2 separate regions of the Homo sapiens genome follow, and region 2 is linked to region 1. The links come from fine-mapping of genetic effects on gene expression. Tissue or cell type: tibial artery. Region 1 holds a variant in brackets; the other region holds the start of a gene. All regions are shown on one strand. Distances are from middle to middle.

What was found.
Region 2: it holds the start of TATDN2, and the variant in region 1 is fine-mapped to the expression of TATDN2 in tibial artery (GTEx, PIP above 0.99). The same link has a PIP of 0.9 or more in aorta and prostate.

What each region holds. Positions count from the first base shown.
Region 1 is chr3:10,272,240-10,275,142 of GRCh38, reverse strand. The region is part of intron 4 of TATDN2 (TatD DNase domain containing 2); the gene reads right to left. Among named protein-coding and RNA genes, the nearest start is that of MIR12127, 6.7 kb to the left of the region's middle. The variant C/A (reference allele first, on the strand shown) is at 1,724.
Region 2 is chr3:10,247,146-10,250,048 of GRCh38, reverse strand. TATDN2 (TatD DNase domain containing 2) reads right to left here and starts at 1,590. Exons shown (of 8, transcript NM_014760.4): 1 at 982-1,590; 2 at 435-854. The coding sequence starts at 848. RefSeq lists an enhancer at 154-1,022 and a silencer at 1,275-1,704.

The DNA of each region.
Region 1 (2,903 bases):
GTGGTGGCAGGTGCCTATAATCCCAGCTACTTGGGTGGCTGAGGCAGGAGAATCCCCTGAACCTGGGAGGCAAAGGCTGCAGTGAGCTGAGATCATGCCACTGCACTCCAGCCTGGACAGAGCAAGACTGTCTCCAAAAAAAAAAAAAAAAAATTAATTCATTATAAGCAAATTACCTCATATTAATGTTTCCATGAGTAGTTTCTACAACTGTGGAACATAATTTGTGTTTATGTTTTCAGCATCAAACAATGAGATACTTTTTGTAATTTGAGTCAGGTGATATTCACTTGAGAATATTTACAAGTCTAACACCTGTACTGCCTCTTCTCAAAATAGCAACACTAAGCCAATACCAATTCTGATGTAACTTTTGTTTAATCTGTGTTTTCAAAGAAAGGAAAATGACCACAGACATCAAAATTATAGACTGCTTGACAGAGGCTTTATCTAAAGCCTGGCCAGTTCCACTATCAATAGGTGGCTGGAGCCCCTCCTATTTGCATCTGCTAAGCTGTTCATCTGCCCTCCCCGACCCCTACACACAGGCAGCAGAGGTTTCAAGAGATTCCAATTCCAACATTTCATTCCTGCCTCTAAAAAATTATCCCTCAGAGTAGTGAAATAAACTATTAGAGCTTTAGGATAGAATATTACACAGCTGTTAAACATTTTTCAAAGTATAGCTGATGAATGGGAAAATTTCACGAGTAGAAAAGACACTTAAAACTATTTAATTTCCTAATTTCTTTCTTTAACACAAGCACACACATCCAACCTACGACAGGTGCATGGAAGACAAGCCACTGTGCAACTGTTCCTTGCAATTGTATTGTACCTTGCAATTTTCCAAGGAACAATAACATTACATTTATAATGTTTCATGAAACACATCCAGATTTCAAAAATGTTAAGAAGGAAGAAGAACTCATTAGAATGCAGGAACTTGTGGTTGGACAGGAGCTATTTGCAGCATTTGTCCTCACCAGGAACCCAGCTGAAAAACAACAGGAGTGAAGGAAGTACAGATGAGTTATTACCCAGTATAATTACTCACTTCTACCTGCATAAGGTTGGCTTCCTAACTGATCCATTATTTCCAGGGATTCCAGAGTTAGTCTCTCCTGGGAGTTGCCCCAGGCATCTCTTGCATATTTATTACTTTAATAATTAATTAATTCCTCTTTAACACAAGTAAAGAGATACAGCCTGGGTAGGGAAGGACAGTCTACTCTCCCTGGCATCCCTCCCAGATGCTGACATGTGCAACTTACACACAAACTATTCAGGATCTAACTCTTATGAGTTACATAGTTAATCTGTAAACACCACAGATCAACAAAGAAAACGTTAACAGTAATTTGCTCTAACCAGCAGAATAACTATAACTACCCATTCTTTCCCCAATTGTTTTGCTTTTCTCTATTTTCCAATCCTTCCAGAAAATTTTAGGTACATCAACCAAACTCTCCTATAATGAGCAGGGTCTGTCACCCTATCATCTTGCCCAGATACAGACCTTCCACAGGCTCTTTTTTTTTTTTAATGTAATAAAGATGGGGTCTCACTATGTTGCCTTGGCTCATCTTGAACTCCTAGGCTCAAGCAATCTCCTGCCTCAGACTCCCAAAGTGTTGGGATTACAGGCGTGAGCCACCTCGCCCAGCCCTCTATAGGTTCTTCTTCTTCCCTTCACAAGATAAAACATTCAGCAGGACACATC[C/A]AGAACTTGCTAACTGCTCTTTTAGGTAAATGCAACTCAGCACTGACATCCAACTAGGTGCAGTTGCCAGTCACCACCATTCACCTCATTTGGGTGCCAAATTTTTTATTTACATCAAAACAGTGTCCATATCCCCCACCCAGCCTAGGAGTCTCTGGTGTTGACAAATATTTTCTAGTCTTCCTCCCCTTTACAGGCAGCTTAGCCCTCTCCCAGCCAGCAACTCCTCAGACTCATTATCTTCCAGTCTTGAGTCAAATCTCACCAAGCCAAATGACATCTTCAAGACTGTGTTTATCCCCCTATGCCTATCGCTTCTAGTTCAGTTTGTTGTGCAGGTCGCCCCATGGACCTTTAAGTGCAGACCTGAGACCCTGATAATTTTGTCTTGAGACAGGGTCTCACTCTGTCACCCAGGCTGGAGCATAATCATGGGTCACTGCAGCTCAACCTCCCAGGCTCAAGCAATCCTCCTGCCTCAGCCTCCTGAGTAGCTGGGACCCCAGGCATGTACCATCACACCCAGCTAATTTTTTTTTTTTTTTTTGGTAGAGATAGGGTTTCACCATGTTGGCCAGGCTGGTCTCCAACTCCTGGCCTCAGGTGATCCGCTCGCCTTGGCCTCCCAAAGTGCTGGGATTACAGGCATGAGTCACCACACCCAGCTATACCCAGCTAATTTTTGTATTTTTAATAGAGACGGGGTTTCGCCACGTTGGCCAGGCTGGTCTCCAACTCCTGGCCTCAGGTGATCCGCCTGCCTCGGCCTCCCAAAATACTGGGATTACAGGTGTGATCCTGTAAATACAAAAAATTAGCTGGGCGTGGTGGCGGGAGTCTATAATCCCAGCTACTCAGGAGGCTGAGGCAAGAGAATCGCTTGAACCTGGGAACTGGAGGCTGCAGTGAGCCAATATCATGCGATTGCACTCCAGCCTGGCCAACAAGAGTGAAACTCTGCCTTAAAAAAAAAAAAAAATTAGCCGGGTGTGGTGGCAGGCACCTGTAATCCCAGCTACTCAGGAGGCTGAGCCAGGAGAATCACTTGAACTGGGGAGGTGGAGGTAGCAGTGAGCTGAGATCGTACCGCTGCCCTCCAGCCTGGGTGACACAGCAAGACTCCATCTCAAAAAAATTTTTATTTTTAATTAGCCAGGCGTGGTGGTGTGCACCTGCAGTC
Region 2 (2,903 bases), 25 kb after region 1:
TTCTTTAAACTGACAACTAAAATAAATACATTCTTCTCTTGAGCACATAATCCACCTTCTACTGCAGTGATTCTCCAACGGGGCTGCACGTTTACAATAACCTGGGGAGCACTGAAAAATCTGGAAGCCCAGACCACACCTCAGCCCAATAAATCAGTTTCTCTGGAGTAGGAGGCAGGCCCAAGTATTTTAAAGCTTTCCAAGTAGTTCCAAAGTGCTGCCGAGTTTGAAAATTACCTCTCTACTTAACTTCAGGCCACGCGCCTGGAAGACTGCTAGGTCTTCGAGTTTGGGGGGAGTGGACTTCTAGAAAGACCTTCCAGACCTTCAAGGATGTAATGTTTTGTAGTCTCCTTCCACCAAAATTCCCATCCCCAACCTCTCAAGCCATGTGGAAGGGGCTTCACCGATTGCAAAGCGTGGCAGCCACCTACCTTAAGGCTGCAGGCTTCCTCCTCTAGAGAAGCCATTTCTTCCAAAGAGGCGTTGGCAGGACGCAGAGGGGATCCCCCTGAAGACAGGAACCCCCGAGTGTTCCGAATCAGGCAGCCTTTGGAGGCGGCCCCGCCCACACCAGGGCCCAAGAAATGTGGGGAGAAGGAGGAGGAGGAGTTATTTCTGCGGCGGGATGAGCCCCAGGATAACCTCCGCGAGCAAGCCACATCGTCCTCCTTCTGGGCTTTCAGGCGCTTGGGGCTGCTGGGCCCTCCAGAACGCGACGCAGACCTCTGAGCTGGCCGGCTGGAGGGGGCCACATCACAGGGCTCCCGGAGGCAGCTGCGCTTGCGGGGACACCCTTCCGACGTGCTGCTCCAGTTGTGCTTGACCTTGCCCCGCTCGGACGCCATGGGCACCTGCAAGGTACAGGGGGCCTGGATTCCAACACCACCCTTCCTGGCGACCCCACCTCAGATTCCCGCCACCCCGGGCCCAGGAGGACGGCAAGACATAAGGGCAGAGCCAGGGGCTAGCCTCACTGACCTTTCCCTCTTCTTTCCACTGCCCATCACAGTTCTCAAGGTTTCAGAGATGCCAAACCGTGTTGGAGAAGTCAAAGCGATCCAAAATTGACTAAAGGCTGCCGTCGGTTTCCAAGCCCACAACGTGCTTCTGAGATCAGGAAGCCTTCACTTTGCCCAGCGCTACTTCGGAGATGCCTAAGCGCTTCCGGGGCTACGAAGCGCTTTGATCAGTTTGCAATATAAAGCCCTTTAGAACTGTCAAGCGCTTCAGAAGACCACATGGCGCTTCAAGATCCACACATGGCTGCCGGATCCGCGGCCCCGGGGCCGGGCGCTTAGCCCGTAGGCCAGGGCCAGACCCGGGCGCCGCAGCCCGCCCTGCTCCTGCGGCCCAACCAGACCCGGGCCGGAAGGGGCCCGAGCGGCCCCTCGGGAGCTGGCAGCGCCCTCGACCGCCAACTCAGGACGCCCCCCGCCGGCTGCCGCAGCTGTCCCGCCGGGCAGCCCGCCGCCTGCCCCAGCCCTACAGCCCCGCCTGGCCCGGCCTCCGCCCGAACTGCGACCACTCCGGCCTCCGTGGCGCCCGCCCTCCGGAACGAGCCCTGCGGCCCGCAGGCCGGAGAGCGACAGGGGCGGGGCCTGCGCCAAACGGAAGGCGCCCATTGCTCGACCCGGCAAGGGGCGGGACTCCGAGCAAGACGCAGCCCGCCTCAAAGCCAGGCGCCTTGGAGTCGGGACGGTACGCCTTAGGAAGCTCGTCCATTGGTCAGAAGCCAGATGGGGCGGAGCCACTCACGTGGGCTCGAACAGCGGGAAGTTGAGGCCAGCCAGATGTGCAGGCAGGTGGTGTCCGCTGACGCGCCTCACTTAACGCTGTTTTCCTCAGCGCCGGCCGCTGTACCTGAAGCTTTCAGACCTGGATTTCTCATCGAGCCAAAGCAAACCGTGTACTGAGCATTATCACCCCACTTTATAGAGCAGAAAACTGTGGCTCAGAGAGACTAAGTACACACCCAGAAATGGGAAGAATTAGAATTAGAAGGCACCAAAAAAAAAAAAAAAAAGACTACACAAAAATGTGAACTATCCGCCTGGTGAAAAATATTAAAGACGGCTGGGCACGGTGTCTCACGCCTGCAATCTCAGCACTTTGGAAGACCGAGGCGGGAGGATGGCTTGAGCTCGGGAGTTAGAGACCAGCCTGGCCAGCATGGTGCGACCCCCATCTCTACAAAAAATAAAATTAGCTGGGCGTGATGCCAGCTACTCAGGCTGAGGTGGGAGGATCACTTGAGGCCGGGAGGTCGAGGCTGCAGTGAGCTGTGATCCCGCCACTGCACTCCAGCCTGGAGGACAGAGCAAGACCCTGTCTCAAAAAAGAAAAAAAATCAAAGACAAGGTACAAATTCAGAAAAATACTCGAAACATATGACAAAGGGCTGATATTCGATGTAGCAATTCTCCCAAAATAATAAAATAACTTAGTATTAAGACTGGCAAAGGAGGCTGGGTCCAGTGGCACACGTCTGTAATCCCAGCACTTTGGGAGGCCGAGGTGGGTGGATCTCTTGAGGCAAAGAGTTCGAGACCAGCGTGGGCAACATGGTGAAATCCTGTCTCTAGTGAAACACAAAAATTAGCCTGGTGTGGTGGTGGGCGCCTGTAGTCCCAGCTACTCAGGAGGCTGAGGTGGGAGGATCCCTTGAGCCTGGGAAGTCGAGGGTCCAGTGAGCCAAGATTACTGCCACTGCACTCCAGCCAGGGAGACAAAGTGAGACCCCTGTCTCAGGGAAAAAAAAAAAAAAAGGCAAAGGAAGCAATGAACAAAAACAAATCATGAAACGCTCCTAAATATAAGAAAGATGGCTCCACCTCAACCATTAAAAAAGTACATGTAAGGCCAGGTGTGGTGGCTCACGCCTGTGATCCCAGCACTTTGGG